2 separate regions of the Homo sapiens genome follow, and region 2 is linked to region 1. The links come from fine-mapping of genetic effects on plasma protein levels. A gene starts in region 1. The other region holds a variant in brackets. All regions are shown on one strand. Distances are between the middles of the regions. Region 1 holds the start of EVL (Enah/Vasp-like). Region 2 has its middle 110 kb from the start of EVL.

Region 1 (8,334 bases):
GACAAAAAAAAAAAAAAAACCTCAGTATTCTCTATTCACAAAAAGTGCTTTGAAGCTTGAAGACAAAGATGTTTTTCAGATAAAAGAAAACTAAGAGAATGTATTGCCAACTTACCTGTTGTACAGAAAATCCTAAAGGAGGCCAGGCATGGTGGCTCACGCCTGTAATCCCAGCCCTTTCGGAGGCTGAGGTGGACGGATCCCTTGAGACCAGGAGTTTGAGACCAGCCAGGGCAACATGTTGAAACCCTTCTCTACAAAAAATACAAAAATTACAAAATACAAAAAATACAAAAATACACCAGACATGGTGGCACATGTCCTTAGTCCCAGCTACTCAGAAGGCTGAGGCAGGAGGATCATTTGAGCCTGGGAGGCAGAGGTTGCAGTGAGCTGAGATCACCCAGCTTGGGTGACAGAGCAAGACCCTGTCTCAAAAAAAAAAAAAAAAAAAAAAAAAAAAGAAATGCTAAAGGAAGTTCCTCAGGCTGCAAAAAAAAAAAAAAAAAAAAAGATACCAGGAAATTCAAGTGCTCGGGGATGGATAAAGATTACCAGAAAAGAGAAATATATGAGTAAACCTAAAGACTTTTATTTCTTCAATACACGCACACACGCACATGACTTGAACAATCCCGGGGTTAGGGTACTGGCCCCTCGAACAGTTGAAAATCCACCTAAACTTTTGCATCCCCCAAAATTTTAGCTATTAAGAGCCTGTTGTTGACAGGAAGCCCTACCAATAACATAAGCAGTTGGTTAATACATACTTTGTATATTATGTGTATTATACACTGTATTCTTATAATTAAGCTAGAGAAAAAATTTTATTAAAATCATAGGTGAAAATATGTTTTCATTAGTTTCACTAGTCATTAATTGGAAATGGATTATCTTAAAGTTCTTCATCCTTGTCATCTTCACATTGAATAGGCTGAGGAGCAAGAGGAAAAGGAGGGGTTGGTCTTGCTGTCTCGGGGTGGCAGAGGTAAAAGAAATTCCATGTGCAAGTGGACCTGGGTCAGGCATGGTGGTAGCTCATGCCTGTAGTCCTAGCACTTTGGGAGGCTGAGATGGGAGGATTGCTTGAGCCCAGGAAGTTGAGGCTGCAGTGAGCTGTAATCATACCACTGTACGCCGGCCTACGCAACAGAGTGAGACCACATCTCAAAAAAAGAAATAGTAGTATAATGGACCTGTGAAGGTCAAACCTGTGCTGTTCAAGAGTCAGCTGTGTGTATATATATATATATGTATATATATATATATGACTGTCCAAAACAAAAATATGTAACATTGTATTTTGAGTAACATATGACAGCTACACCATAAAGGATGGGAATGGAGAATGAAATTATGCAATTATGAAGTTCTTAACATTTTACTGAAGTGGTACAATATTAACTCTAAGTGTACCCTACAAAGTTAAGAATGTATATTGTAATCCCTAGAAAGACCTCTAAAAAAAAAAGAGGTATAGCTAAAAAGTCAATAGAGAAATTCAAATGGAATTCTGAAAAGTATTTAGTTTACCCACAAGAATACAGGAAACGAAGAACAGAGGAACCAGAAACAGATGAGACAAACAGAAAACAAATAGCAAAGTAGTAGACCTGTATCCATCTACATCAATAAACTAAATGTAAATAGACTAAATACCCCAATTAAAAGATAGAAATTGTCAGACTGGGTGAAAATGCAAGACTCAGTCATACACTACCTATAGGACATACTTTAAATACAAAGATACAAATCGACTGAAAGTGAAAGGATGGGTAGTAGGCAGAGTAATGCCATCACCCCGCCGTAATCCCTAGAACCTGTGACTGTGTGACTTTACATGGGATGGGCATGGTGACTCATGCCTGTAATCCTAGCACTTTGGGGGCCAAGGCAGGAGGATCACTTGAGGCCAGGAGTTTGAGATCAGCCTCGGAAACATAGCAAGACCCCATCTCTATTTAAAAAACTGTTTTCAAATTAGCCAGGCATGATGGTGTGTGCCTATAGTCCTAACTACTCAGGAAGCTGAGGTAAGGAGGATCACTTGAGCCAGGAGTTTGAGGCTGCAGTGAACTATGATCACACCACTGCATTTCAGCCTGGGTGACAGCAAGAGACCCTGCCTCTAAAAAAGTAAATAAATAAAATGTTACCTTACATGGCAAAAAGGACTCTGCAGACGTGATTAAAGTTGTGGACCTTGAGATGGAGCGGTTATCTTGGATTATCCATTGGGTCCAGTCTAATCACACGAGTCCTTAAAAGTAGAGAACCTGTCCACACCGCGGTCAGAAAGAGATGTCACTGTGGAAGAAGGGTCGGAGCACTGCTGCGTGCTTTGAAAGTGGACAGAGGGGCTATGAGAAAGCAATGCAGTCAGTGTCCAGAAGCTGAGAGAGGTGAGCAAGAGAGACCTATGTGGAACTTCTGATGATGTTGGGCTTCTGACCTCCTATCATCTTACAAAACTCTAAGATAATAAGTGTGTGTTGTTATAAGCCACTCAGTTTGTGGTAATTTGTTACAGCAGCCGCAGAAAACCAATGCTGCATGGAAAAATGTACCTAACAAGAGCTTCAAGAAATAGTGACAGAATTAAAGAGGGAAATCCACAGTCACAGTTGAAGATTTCAGGACCTTTCCCTCAGCAGTTGATAGAATAATTAGACAAAAACAAACAACAGCAACAAAAAGTAACAAGGACGTAGACGTTCTGAACAATACTATTAACCACCATGACCTAATTGACATTCTAGAACACTGCACCCGACCAGTTTCAGAATACACATTCTTTCCTTGTGCATATGCTACATCCGCCAAGGTAGACTGCATGCTGGGCCATAACGCACATTTTGATAAATGTGAAAGGATTGAGATCATACCAGGAAAAACAAAGGAAGAAGTCACACCAAATATGTTCTCTGGCCCCAGTAGAATTAAATTGGAAATAGGTAGCAACAGATATAGGAAAACACCAAATATTTCAAAATTTAACGAAGCACTTATCAATAATCCATGGATAAAAGAAGAAATCACTAGAGAAAATTAAAAATATTTTGAACCAAAAGAAAAAAGAAAACTGCAATACATCCAAACTGTGGTTTGCAACTAAAACAGTGCTTAAAGGGAAATGTATATCATTAAAAGCCTTTTAAAATGCATTTTTAGCATTCAAAGTGCATTCATCTCTCCAATTAGAACTGATACTTCTTTTGTACTGTACTCTGTACAGCTGTTTTTCACTATATCAATAATATTTTAATGGATCTATTAAATATTTGCTAACATTATCAACCTCTTCTTTTCTAAACCATAAAAGTCCTTTAAGGACAAGTACAGTCGTTCTCAATTTTTTGTCTGTGATTTCTAACACAGTGCATGCTTCTTAGTGAGTTCTCAGTAGATTTTGAAAGAAAGATTGGACTGGATCTTACCTTCATGAGAACCCTGTGGAGATAGGCAAAATAAGTATAACCCCATTTTACAGTTGAGGCCACCCACTTAATAAACAAGTGACAAAGCCAAGTTTCCAGTATTCCTCAAGTGTTTTCCTTTCAGGCTCTAAATTGCTGACTTAAATGTCATCATTAGAGAGAGTTGTCTCCTCGGTAGAAGTACAAATTTTGTTCCAGAGTCAAATATGAAGACTTGATCAGTGGCCTGGCGCGGTGGCTCACGCCTGTAATCTCAGCACTTTGGGAGGCCAAGGCAGGCGGATCACCTGAGGTCGGGAGTTCGTGACCAGCCTGACCAACATGGAGAAACCCCGTCTCTACTAAAAATACAAAATTAGCTGGGCATGGTGGCACATGCCTATAATCCCAGCTACTCAGGAGGCTGAGGCAGGAGAATCGCTTGAACCCAGGAAGCTGTGGTGGCGGTGAGCCAAGATCGTGCCATTGCACTCCAGCCTGGGTGACAGGAGTGTGAAACTCTGTCTCAAAAAAGAAAAAAAGACTTGATCAGCTTATAGCCTTTATCATCTAGTCTTCTATTCTCTGGAGAGTCAGTGGGGACTCTTCCGAGTTCTTGTAGCCTTTTCTTAAGGCCTATAGGAAGTCATCTGTGCTGAGCCTGCACTTTCTATAACAGATGGAAAACTGAAGCTCAGACATCTTAAGTGGCATTGACTTAGACTATAGAGCTAGTTAGTGGGGGGCCAGCACCATGACCTGGCCCCTACCTCCAGCAGGCTTCACCCACCCTTGCACCCTTGCAGGAAGCACTTAGAGGCTTGAGGTTGCCAGCTGTGGGGGGTTGGGCCTGTGCAGTGCCTCTCAGCCGCCCACGCTGGTGGGGCTCTGCAGTGTTAGCTTCTTGTTTCTCTATTTTCTACCTAGGTTTCAGTTTTTCACTTGGGTTTGTTTCCCCTTTGTCTCTGGTTCAGCTTCCTTTTCCTGTTTGGTTTTAAGTAGGCTATAAAAATCAAGTTGCTGTCTTCAGAGGGTCTGTGGTCCTCTGATCAACATAGGCTGGTGGGAGTACAGGACTCGCCTCCTCAGGGTTCCCTGTGCTGCCACTTTTCAGCCATGGCCACAAGGTGAGTATTGGAACCAGTGCAGGGGACAGAGGGATGTCAAGAGGAAACCTAGAATCTTAACGGTGAATGGGCTGTAGAAATTATCTCAGGTCCCCTTAGTATACTGATCGAGAAGTCCATGACCAGAGGGCAGGGGGCTTACATGAGGTTACACAGCAGGTTAGTGACAGTCTGCTCCCTCTCTAGCCGCTGGTCTTTCCATTACACAGGCCTGTGTCTCTTGATGCCTGTGACCTTTAATGGCTTCTGAGTCAAGGACTTACTTAGAAATTAGCACCTGCCTCTCATTATAGGGAGGAGGGTCTGAGCCATCTAGGGGAATTGTTGTTTAGCTCAGAGGTACATTTGGTGAGTCCTGGCCCTTCTCTCTAGAATGACCCGAGACTGGTTGTTTTTTCTAAATATAGGCAGAGAGGGTTCTTTTTATGATAGGAACTTCATGAACTTAATAGCAAGAGTCCTGACCCTCCACTTGAGAGACTTGTGGACTTAGGCTATTGCTGTTGAGCACATGTGTGAATACCAGCCAGTCTACAAACCGCACTCCTCATTGAGATTGTTCTCTCTAAAGGTGAGATTACATTTTGGACCTGCCTCTCCCCTGCCCTACAACTCTGAAAGATTATAGATGATAGGACAGACAGACTTTTATCCTGTGGGGTTTGGGGCATTTGTTTGATTGACTCATGACAGCTTTGTTTTTTAGCATAAAGTAACAATCCCTCACTTTGAAAATTATTTCACAATTTCCAAAGTGCCATTTCGCCAGTTTTCTTATTTGAATCTTTTAGCCGTGTTAGATTGATGAGAACGCTGTCATCACTCCTGTTTCGTAGCTGAGAAAACCTCTGAAAAGTTGTGGGGTTTGTCCAAGGTCACATGGCAGGTTGGGGAAGGAATGGAACCAGGGTTTAACGAGGTTGGCCTCATCCGGTGGTTTTCGCAGCACGCTACACAGGCACAGAAGCAGCTTGCAGTGAGTTGTTAAAATTGACGTGGTGATAGGTAGAACTTGTCCAGGGCTGCTTATTTTCCAGTTGGCTTTATTTCTGATCCTGTCATTTTAGTAACTTTCCTTTAACTTTAGAGGACTCGTGAGTGGAGCTTTAGAAAACAGAATGCTTTTCATTTCAAAGGCATATCAACTTCCAAAGTCATTTTCAGTTGTAAATTACATTGTGAAAACTTCTAGCAGCTTATTCTACCGTGTCAATTACTAATTGCAGAAAATTATATCAAAAGTAAATGAGGCACAGCAATTTCTTTTTCAATTTTAAAATCGTAGAAATCCTAGAAATTTCCATCTTGAAAAGACCTTGGAGGTGATCTACAGTAGATAAGATGTTTTGGGCACCTTATTCTCCACTTCAGCCAAAATAACTCTGCTTTTATGTTTTCTATGTATTCCTTGATAATTCATTGAGAAAAAACAGTCATTGTTGGTGGTGGTGATGACTTTCAAGTCTGAAGATTACACTAATCTAGCCCAGCTCTTGAGTGCGCAGATCAGGAAATTGAGGCCCAGTGTGGAGCAGAATTTGTGTACGGGGAGCGGAGTAGTGGCTGAACCAAAGCAAAAGCCCAGGTTTTCTGGTGCGTCCCTCCCCCGTACAAGGCTGCTTGCACTCTGCCACAGGTCCCTGGCCTGGCACCATAGTGACAGTCCTGGTGGAAGCAGCGTTCGTGGAGCTGCAAGGTCAGCAGCCATAGGAGCTGTGAACTTTTCGTTTTTCCTCATGCTGACTGACACATGGGGATACCGTGGCGCCTGTGGTGGGGATACAAAGGACCTTTTAAATGTGAAAATATATCTTACCAGCTCTAGCTCTGGCTACCCACCAATCAAGAAACAGTTTCCAAGCCCTGACTGGATTAGGAGCTGGGAATTCTCTTGAGTGCATGACAACGTACAGAATGCTTTCACTGACGTTATTTAGTTATCGCAATAATCCTGAAGGTAGTGTTGTGGGGCGTTTTTGTTTTTGTATTTTTTAGAGATGAGGTCTTGCTTTATTGCCCAGGCTGGCCTCAAACTCCCGGGCTCGAGCAAGCCTCCTGCCTCAGCGGGACTACAGGTGTGGGCCACCACACCCAGCTAGCATTGTTTTTATTGTTTCTGTTTCACAGGAGAGAGTAACTTGACAAGAGACATAGCCAGTGAGTGATAGACCCAGGACTTGAACCTGTGCCTCCTGACCACAGATGCTTTGCCCTTTTGCTCTTACGCCTGAATTAGAGCTGCCTCTGTCCTCAGGGACTGGTAGGGAGTGAGGAAGACAGCACTCACAGAAATGAGGAGGCGACTGGCTGTGAGGACCCTGCAGCACAGAGAGTAATAAGCATAGACAGGAGGGGCAGTAAGAGTTGAGAAGTTGGGGACTGTCAGGGAAGACCTCAAAGAGAAAGTGGGATCTCAGGTGAACTTTGAAGAATAGGGATGATTTTTTAGAAGGCACTGGCAGGCATCACAGGCAACCAGTCACCCAGCGGCTGCTCTGGGTGCTAGGGACACAGTGGTAAACAAGACAGGCAGTCTTGTCCTCAAACTGAGGGCAGAGTCGGGAGGCAGAATATAGTCAAGAAACCATCAACAAGAGACGTGAAAACAATAGAGCAGTGTGGTAGAGAGTGACTGGGCCACGCCTTAGGGGACATGTGGGGACATGAGGCAGCCATGCTAAAATCTGAAGGTTTTGGGGTGGAAAGGGCAGCAAGTATCCTCAGCTGGGGACGAGGCCCTGAGATAGGAATGGTTTGGTGGGTTCAAGGGTCAAGAAAAATACAGAGGCTGGAGCAACATGAAGAAGGAAGAGTGAAGGCAAATAAGGGCACAGAAGGCTTTATCAGGCCCAACGGCAAAGCCTGCGAGCTGTGCTGAATTTAGCGCGTATGTCAGAATTTAGTTAGGGGAAGCCTTTGGAGGGAGGGTTTGAAGCAAAGGGAAAGACATCTCATAGAAGCTTAAGAAAATCACTCTGGGCCCTGTGTGGATAATGGCTGGCAGTGTGGCAAGAATGGAGGCAGGATGACCTCTTGGGAGGCTACCGCAGTCATCCAGGTAAGAGGTGAGGGTGGTTTGGGCCAGCAGTGGAGCAGTCAGGGTAGGCGGTGAGAAGTCACCAGATTCAGGAAGTGCCGTGGTGCTGTAGCCTCCAGGACTATCTGGTGGATCACACATGGGCGTGGGGGAAACATGAGTCAGACATGGCTTAGGTGGGTGGTGATTCCTTTCACCACGCTGGGGCAGCTGGGGTGCTAGCTGGAAGAATCTGTAGAGGTGTGGGCCTAGCAGCACAGGTTCCCAGGAAATGTGGGTTGAACAAGGCTGACCTGAGCAGGAAGTAGCTGAGGTCGCGGTGCAGCAGCAGGAAACGTGATATGGATGTGTGATATGTCTGCCACTTTTGGGGCCAGCCAGTTAATTTCGTTTCCTTCCCTGGTCTCTCTGTTGTCTTTGGTAGGCTGTGGGTTTTTCCGAAGCACGTACTATCTTCTAACGTATTATAGAACTTACTTGTTCTACTGTATACTGTCTTTACCCCTCAAGAATGTAAACTCCCAGAAGGCAGGGATTTTCGCCTATTTTGTTCAGTGGTGTATCCCCAGTGCCTAAAACATTGCCTGGCAATACACATTTATTGAACTGCTGGATTTAATTAACTACTTTGATATATGGTCCTAAAGATTCCTGTGCTACCAAAGTTGCTACTCAGTGGAGCTTCCTGGTGTGGCATGTTAGAGAAGAGACCAGAAAAACAGACATTTCACTTGCTGTCAGGTAGTGAAGGAGC
Region 2 (8,334 bases), 110 kb before region 1:
GCCCCTCCTCACCTTCAATCACTGCTCCTCCATTTGAAAGCATTCTCAGAAACTGATGCTACAGGAAAGGCCTCTACCTTGTTCTGGCAAGTTCCCTCCTGCACTTCTTTCCCAGGCTGAGGCAGCTCCAGGGCTCAGACGTCAGCCAGAAGTAGGGGAGGGAGAGGACTCAGCCAGACATAGGGATCTGGGGTCCAGAGGGCAGCCGCACAGCCACCACGCTCGTCTGCCATGCTCGTGATACCTGCCCACCCCATAGCAGAGATGTTTCTGTTAACCACTTATAGAATGGTGGGGCTGCAGTGACGCTCAGGGGTCGTCTTGGGGGAGCATCTCCCAAAGTATGTTCTGTGAAACCCAATTCCAAAGCATGTTAATAGCCCCTGTGTTGGGGAGGCACTGAGCTAGACGCATTAATATGCCCTGTGAGTCGAGAAGGGCTATTGTGTTCATCTATTCACCCAACAAACACCACCCCTACCCTGAGGCAGCACATCCTAGGGGCCGGGGATACCAGAGTTCTTGCTCTCATGGAACTGTGAATGGAGAAAGCAATGAAGAGGCTGAGGAGACTGTTCCCGCTGGAGATGGGCGGGGAGGGGCCGGTAGTCACAAGGGCTACTTAAGCCCAGGCACGCAGAGGAGGTGGCTTTTGAGCAGAGAGTGTGGTGACAGAATAAGGGCCTGAGACTTGCAGCCAGCTGGGGACACCCCTGGCTGAAGATACCAGGGCATGGTGTGAGAGTGCCAGGTCCCCGAGGCTGTCTAACTGCACAGCTTCTCCTTCCTGGGACATCACTGCTAGGCCAGAGACTCAGCACACCTCGGGGGAAAGGCTCTTTTGCCCACTCCCTCTTTTTAAAGGCAGAATCAAAGCCCTTTGGAGAACAGGGATTTACCCAAGGTTGCTGTGACCTTAGCTCGGGCAGCCCCCAGCTGCCCACCTTTGCTTCTTTTTAGAAAATGAAGGTTAATGTGCTTTAAATCATAAAACTCATCCAGACTCATTATAGCAAATTCAGAAAGAAGCCCAGCCATATCACTACCACCCTGAAATAGCACTATTACTTCTGAGCACATTTCCTTCCTGTATTTCTTTTTCGAGTAGTTTTGGATGTGTTTCCATAGTTAACATATTGCATATACAATGCTTTCTATTGCTTTTTTCATGTAGCTTTATAGGCATTTTCCCATGTCATTATAACTTTGTTATAAATAACTCCTATCAGCTGCATAACATGATGCCATAATCTATATCACTGCTCCTTGACAGTCTTCTCATATTGAAGATTGTGATGGTGATGATGATGGTGGTGGTGGTGGTGCTGATGATGGCAGTGATGGTAATGGTGATAATGTTGATGCCAATGATGTGGTGATGCTGGTGATCATGGTGGTGATAATGGTGGAGATGGTTACGGCGTGATAGTGATGATGATGGTTGTGATGTTTCATGGTGGTGGTGATGGTGGTGATGCTGCTGCTAGTGGTGATGGTGATGATGAAGGTGATGGTGATGTTGATGATCATGGTGATGATGATGATGGTGATTGTGGTGGTGACGATGATTGTGATGCTGAGGTGATGGTGATGGTGGTGATGCTGATGATGGTGGTGATGATGATGATTGTGATGCTGAGGTGATGATGGTGATAGTGATGGTGATGATGATGAGGATGATTGTGATGCTGACATGATGGTGATGGTGGTGATAGTGATGGTGATGATGATGATGATTGTGATGCTGAGGTGATGGTGATGGTGATGGCGGTGTTAGTGGTGGTGATAGTGGTGGTGATGCTGAGGTGATGGTGATGGTGATGGTGGTGATGCTGATGATTGTGGTGATGATGGTGGTGATGCTGATGGTGGTGATGATGGTAATGATGATGGTGGTGATACTGTTGTGAACTCCCAAAGTTTGAAACAGGTTTCAGTTAATTTAGAAAGTTTATTTTGCCAAGGTTCAGGACACACCCGTGACACAGCCTCAGGAAGTCCTGACAACATGTGCCAAGGTGGTCAGGGCACAGCTTGGTTTTATACATTTTAGGGAGACATGAGACGTCAATGAATATATGTAAGAATTACATTAGTTCCATGCAAAAAGGCAGAGACAACTAAAAGCAACCCCCCCACCCCTTCCCTTCCAGGTCACAGGTAGGTGAGAGACAGATGGTTGCATTCTTTTGAGTTTCTGATAAGTCTTTCCAAAGGAGGCAATCAGAATATGCATGTATCTCTGTGAGCAGAGGGATGACTTTGAATAGAATGAGAGGCAGATTTGTCCTGAGCGGTTCCCAGCTTGAAGGGGCCCAAGATATTTTCCTTTCACACTGGTGATCATGGTGGTGATGGTGGTGATGGTGGTGATGGTGATGGTGGTGGTAATGATGGTGATAATGATGATAATAAAAAATACTAAAGGCCACCCTTACTGAATGCCATTTCTCCACAGTGTACTTGTGCTTTATATGCTCCTTCCATCAACATTTAGACAGGCTCAAATATTTCCTGTTAGAAAAAAACCTTCCTGGTCCATCCCTTTGCCACAGAGCTCTCTCGGGGCCCTCTTCTCTTCTCCCTCCACCTTCTCCCCAGGTTATCTCATCAGCTCCCTGGGGCCAGCCGCCTCTTCAACCCTTACAAGGTCCCAATCACTATCTTTGACTCAGCCTGTCTCCTAGCTTCAAACCTCTGTGTTCAACATCCTGCAGGATGTCTCCATCTGCTCATTCACTGGAGCCTCCATCTCTACATGCTCAAACCCAATTCATCCACTTCTCCCCCAAAAACCCGCATGCCATCCTCCCAGTGGCCCATGCCAGGCATGTGGGTGTTCCTCTTGCCTGTATCAGCAAGCAGCCAATAAGTGACAACCTCGATAGCATCACTCAGCGAGCTCTTACCCACCCCTTGCCAGGTACTGTTGGAGGTGCCTTATGCATGACGGCTCCTTCAACACTCTCAACAGCCCTGTGAGAGGGTCACACAGTGAAACAATTGGGATTTTAACCCATGTAGTCAGGTTTCCAAGATCACACTCAACCACAGCACCATTCTGCCTCTTCCAGAATCGAGGGCTCTGCTCCATGAGGAGCCAGGGCACGTGTCCACGTCATCTCTCCACGGATGCTGCCTATGCCCTGGAGGGCCACCATCACTGCTGGCCTGGCTGCAGCCATGTTGACCTTCCTCCAGGCAGTCTGAGTGACCTTTCCAAACCATAAATCTGACCATATCACTCTCCTGCTTAAAAATTCTTAGGAAAAAGCTCCTTCATGTTACACACAGGACCGGTCAGTGAGCTCTGGTTCCTCTCCAGCACCATCTCTCAGCTCCTGCCACAGAGCTTTTCTCTGTCCAACCACCACGGCAGCCTCTCGTTGCCACCTGGTCTTTGCTCATGCTCTGTGCCCCCAACCCTCTTCCTCTCATCATTCTGGCCAACCACCATAACTTTCAGAACTCAGCTCAAAAGTCACTTCCAGCAGGGCACAGTGGCTCACACCTGTAATCCCAGCACTCTAGGAGGGCAGGGCCAGTGGATCATCTGAGGTCAGGAGTTCGAGACCAACCTGACCAACATGGTGACACCCCGTCTCTACTAAAAATACAAAAATTAGCCGGGCATGGTGGCAGGCACCTGTAGTCCCAGCTACTCAGGAGGCCGAGGCAGGAGAATCCCTTGAACCCAGGAGGCGGAGGTGGCAGTGCGCCAAGATTGCACCACTGCACTCCAGTGTGGGCGACAGAGCAAGACTCCGTCTCAAAAAAAAATAAAAAGTCACTTATTCCGAGAAGGCTTCCCTGAGTGCCAAGGCTGGTTCTTGTCCCTCCTCTGTGTCCCCACCTCTGTTGTACTTCCCTTCTCATGCTGAATTGTGGGTGTAGGTTTATGTGCCTCCAGCCTTTCTGCCAATCAGCACCCTAAGGTGGAAGCACTCTGCATCTCGGGCACTCTTCTTTCCCATCACCTAGCACAGTGCCTGGTGCCCACATGTTATCAGAAGTGTTTGGTGAATACATGAAGGAGTGGACTGTGAGCCTCTGAACTTGCAGTACCCTTTGCCCTTCACACTTCACCCTGAGCATCTTTTCTTGCTTTGGGTGTTTTGCTATGGCAGAGGAGACTGCAGTGAGCAGCTGTCCACTGAGCTTTTCTTTTAGTTAAATTTATTTCTTTGAGGCAAATGCCCAGAAGTGGAATTACTGAGTTAGCAGGCAAGATCATCTTTATGTCTTCTGATATGTTTTGCAAAAATGAATTCCAAAATTATGGTAGCAATTTGGTAGATTTTTTTCTTTTTTAGCAACCTAATCCTCTCTCCCTTTTTAAGTGTCTTCCTGGCGGAAGCCACACAAAGCTATTTTTACCTAAAGGCTGTAAACCTCATCATTCTCCAAGGAGAAAGTCGGGCATGTGTGAGGAAG[C/CT]TATCTACCCACCTCACAGGCTCATCAGCCCTATGCTCTTGCCAAGCTCTAGGTCATTTTGGAAAAGCAAGTTGAAATTATATTCCAAATTAGGCAGTGGTTTTGCGAAAGAAGGAACACACACACACACACACACACACACACACACACACACACACACGTCACACACATATTCATCTCCATTTCGGGGCTAAATTATGAACATCTTTATCACTCAAAGAAACCAGAAAGTTATCAAAGCAAAACCAGTGAACTTTGCCAGGTGAATGTTACGAAGTTTGGACGTGGAAGTAGCTCGGAAGTTGGGGGATCACCTGGTTTTCACACTTTGTTTCAACAGTGTGATGGTTAATTTCATGTGTCAACTTGACTAGGCTAAGGGATGCCCAGAGAGCTGGTCAAACCTTCTTTCTGGTGGTGTTTGCGAGTGTCTCCAGAAGAGAATCAGTAGACTAAGGAAGCTTGATCTCACCAATGCGGGGGTAGGGTGGGGGGGCTGGGGGGTCATCATCCAACTTGTTGAGAACCTGAACAGAACAAAAAGGTAGAGGAAGGGCGAACTTTCTCTCTCTGTTTGACATCTACTAGGACATCAATCTTCTCCTGCCCCAGAACGTTGAAGCTCCTGGTTCTCAGGCCTTTGGACCTGGACTGGGATTCCCACCACCAGCTCCCCTTGTTCTTAGGCCTTCAAATGTGAACTGGAACCACACCACCCGCTTTCCTGGGCCACCAGTTTGCAGATGGCTGATCATGGGACATCTCAGCCTCCATAATCGCATAAGCCAATCCCCCATAATAAATCTCTTTCTATTTGTCTATACACTATACATCCTATTGGCTCTGTTTCTCTGAAGAACCCTGACTAATACCAGCAGCAAAACCTTTTTTCAGATGAAATCATACAAGAAAATCCACTCTGTAATAAGGTTAAGAATGGGGCTGCTCTGGCAGAAGCAGTCAGAGGTGGTGGTGACTCAGAAGCACTCTCACCCTATCTTGTTCCTTCCTCCTCCCTAACACCCCCTGCCCTGGCCACCTCCACCTGCCCCACGGGGCTCCAGAGTCTGCCATCTTGGAGCGGCCTCTGGAGGAAACAGAGGCTCAGGGAGAGGAAGGACCTGCCCAAATCCCCACAGTGAAGGGTGGCAGAGCGGGGTCTACCTGCCGGGCTCCTGGCTCAGTCTTGGGATGGTTCTCAACTATTGTCTTGACAGGAGCCTGCTCAGTTATTCACAGTTACAATGCACATCTTTTCAAGGACGGCCCGAGGTGGCTGGTTTCCCCCAGTGGTTAACCACCCAGGTGCCCCCAGGTATAGTTTGGTTTTAAAATTCTTCCAATTTAAGTTCCCCTATTACCAACATTTCTACTTACTTGATTTTTAAGAAAATCACCCATTGCATGTAGAACAGGTGGACATTTATTGAAATGCAACTGCAATAACATCCCCTGGAAATTAACTTCCTCTCATTTGCCCCTGTGAGTCTGTCTCATTTCTCATTCCTTCTGTTCTGTGCTTTTTTTTCTCTTTTATTTCTTGCACATTGTGAGTTTTCAATTTTTTTTTGAAGAAGCATATTTTAATTTTATTTTTCAGTATTTCAGTTATCTAATTCACTATTTTCAGCTTTTATCTTTATTCATTTCCTCCTCATAATTTCTTTTTATTTATTTTGCTGGGTTTTTTTGTTCTGTTTTGTGTGTTTGTTTGTTTTTTGAGATACAGTGTCATTCTGTCTCCCAGGCTGGAGTGCAGAGGCAGGATCTCGGCTCACTGCAACCTCCGCCTCCCATGCTCCAGCAGTTCTCCTGCCTCAGCCTCCCGAATAGCTGGGATTACAGGCACCCACCACCACACCCGGCTAATTTTTGTATTTTTAGTAGAGACGGGGTGTCACCATGTTAGCCAGGCTGGTTTTGAACTCTTGACCTCAAATGATCCGCCCACCTCAGCCTCCCAAAGTGCTGGGATTACAGGCATGAGCCACTGCGCCCGGCCTATTTTGTTGTGTTTTAAGTTGAATATTTAATTCACTTATATATGTATTGCTTGTTTTGCTTTTTTATTTTTATTTTATTTTGAGACGGAGTCTTGCTCTGTCACCCAGGCTGGAGTACAGTGGCACTATCTCAGCTCACTGCAACCTCCACCTCCTGAGTTCAAGCGATTCTCCTGCCTCAGCCTCCCAAGTAGTTGGTATTACAGGCGCCTGCCACCACGCCTGGCTAATTTTTGTATTTTTAGTAGAGATAGGGTTTCACCATGTTGGCCAGGCTGGTCTCGAACTCCTGACCTCAGGTGATCCGCCCTCCTCTGCCTCCCAAAGTGCTAAGATTCCAGATGTGAGCCACCACGTCCAGCCTTGGTTTTTTTTTTGTTTTTTTTTTTTTTTGAGACAGGGTTTCACTCCCATCACCTAGGCTGGAGTGCAATGGCGCAATCTCAGCTCACTACAACCTCCGCCTCCTGGGCTCTAGCGATTCGCCTGCCTCAGCCTCCTCAGTAGCTGGGATTACAAGCATGTGCCACCACGCCCAGCTAATTTTTGTATTTTTAGTAGAGATGGGGTTTCGCCATCTTGGCCAGGCTGGTCTTGAATTCCTGACGTCAAATGATCCACCTGCCTCAGCCTCCCTAAGCACTGAGATTACAGGCGTGAGCCAGCACGCCTGGTCCATTTATATACATTCTTTGTTGTATAATAATAAAAGCATTTAAGGTATCACTGTATCCCATAAGTGTTGCTCTGAAGTTTTCTCCTTTTCATTAATTTCTTTTTAATTTGTAGTTTTAACATTGATTTCTTTCTTTTTTTTTTTTTTATTTAAATTGAGACCAGGTCTCATTCTGTCATCCAGGCTGGAGTGCAGTGGCGTGATCACAGCTCACTGCAGCCTTGACCTCCCAAGGCTCAGGGAATCCTCCCACCTCAGCCTCCCGAGTAGCTGAGACTACAGGTGCGCACCACCACGCCCAGTTAATTTTTGTATTTCTTGTAGAGACAGGGTTTTGCCATGTTGCCCAGGCTGGTCTCAAACTCCTGGGCTCAAGTGATCATCCTGCCTCAGCCTCCCAAAGTGCTGGGATTATAGGCGTAAGCCACCACGCCTGGCCGATTTCTTCTTTAAGCTAAAACTTACCTATAATAGAAGAGTATTTTATACTTCTAATGTTTTATTATGTTTTTATGGTTATCTGGGGTTTTTTTTTTTTTGCACTCCAGTGAAATTTCTGAACTCTAAGGATAACATTCTGTATATAAGTAATCTGTTTGTTCTGCCAGAAGCTGATATCAGATTACTTATGTACAGAATGTTCCCCTTACATCCACCCCAATATGCCCAAACCTAATGCCTGTGAATATGTAGGTTACATGGCAAAGGGGAATTAAGGTTTCAGGTAGAATGAAGGTTGCTAATCGGATGACCTTAAAATAGGGTGATTATCATGGATCATTACACTGGCAGCCACTGGGGCCAATGTCATCACAAGGGTCCCTAACAGTGGAAGACAGAGGCACAGGAGGTCAGAGGGAGACACGACTGCCGACAAAAGGTCAGCGATGCCATGTGAGAGAGACTTAACCCCCGCGGCTGGCTTTGAAGAGGGCCCCATTCTAAGGGGCCACGAGCCCAAGAATATGGGCAGCCTCTGAGAGAAGGTGGAAGAGGCAAATAAACTCACCCAGAGCCTCCAGAAGAATGCAGCCCTACTGGCACCTTGGCTTTAGCCCAGAGAGACTTTTGAGCTCTGGAACCGTAAGATAATAAAAATGTGTGTTGTTTGAAGCCACTCTGCTGTTGGTAACTTATGTTAGCAATAGGAAACTGATATGATATGTGAAAAAGGGACTCCAACTGGTTACCAGGTTTCTTTCTTTCTCTTTCTTCCTTTCT

What was found. PIP is the chance, under the fine-mapping model, that this variant and not a neighbour inherited with it causes the effect. Protein levels are from the aptamer-based SomaScan assay of Sun 2018.
Region 2: its variant is fine-mapped to the plasma level of the EVL protein (Sun 2018, PIP 0.95).

What each region holds. Positions count from the first base shown.
Region 1 is chr14:100,060,969-100,069,302 of GRCh38, forward strand. It overlaps EVL (Enah/Vasp-like), which reads left to right and starts at 4,454. Exons shown (of 14, transcript NM_016337.3): 1 at 4,454-4,543. The coding sequence starts at 4,533. LOC124903379 (a long non-coding RNA gene) reads right to left here and starts at 3,076. Exons shown (of 2, transcript XR_007064329.1): 1 at 2,162-3,076. RefSeq lists enhancers at 3,928-3,977, 4,328-4,417, 4,468-4,547, 4,598-4,737, 5,118-5,197 and 6 more.
Region 2 is chr14:99,950,658-99,958,991 of GRCh38, forward strand. No RefSeq gene overlaps it. Among named protein-coding and RNA genes, the nearest start is that of EVL, 110 kb to the right of the region's middle. RefSeq lists an enhancer at 1-384. The variant C/CT (reference allele first, on the strand shown) is at 4,435.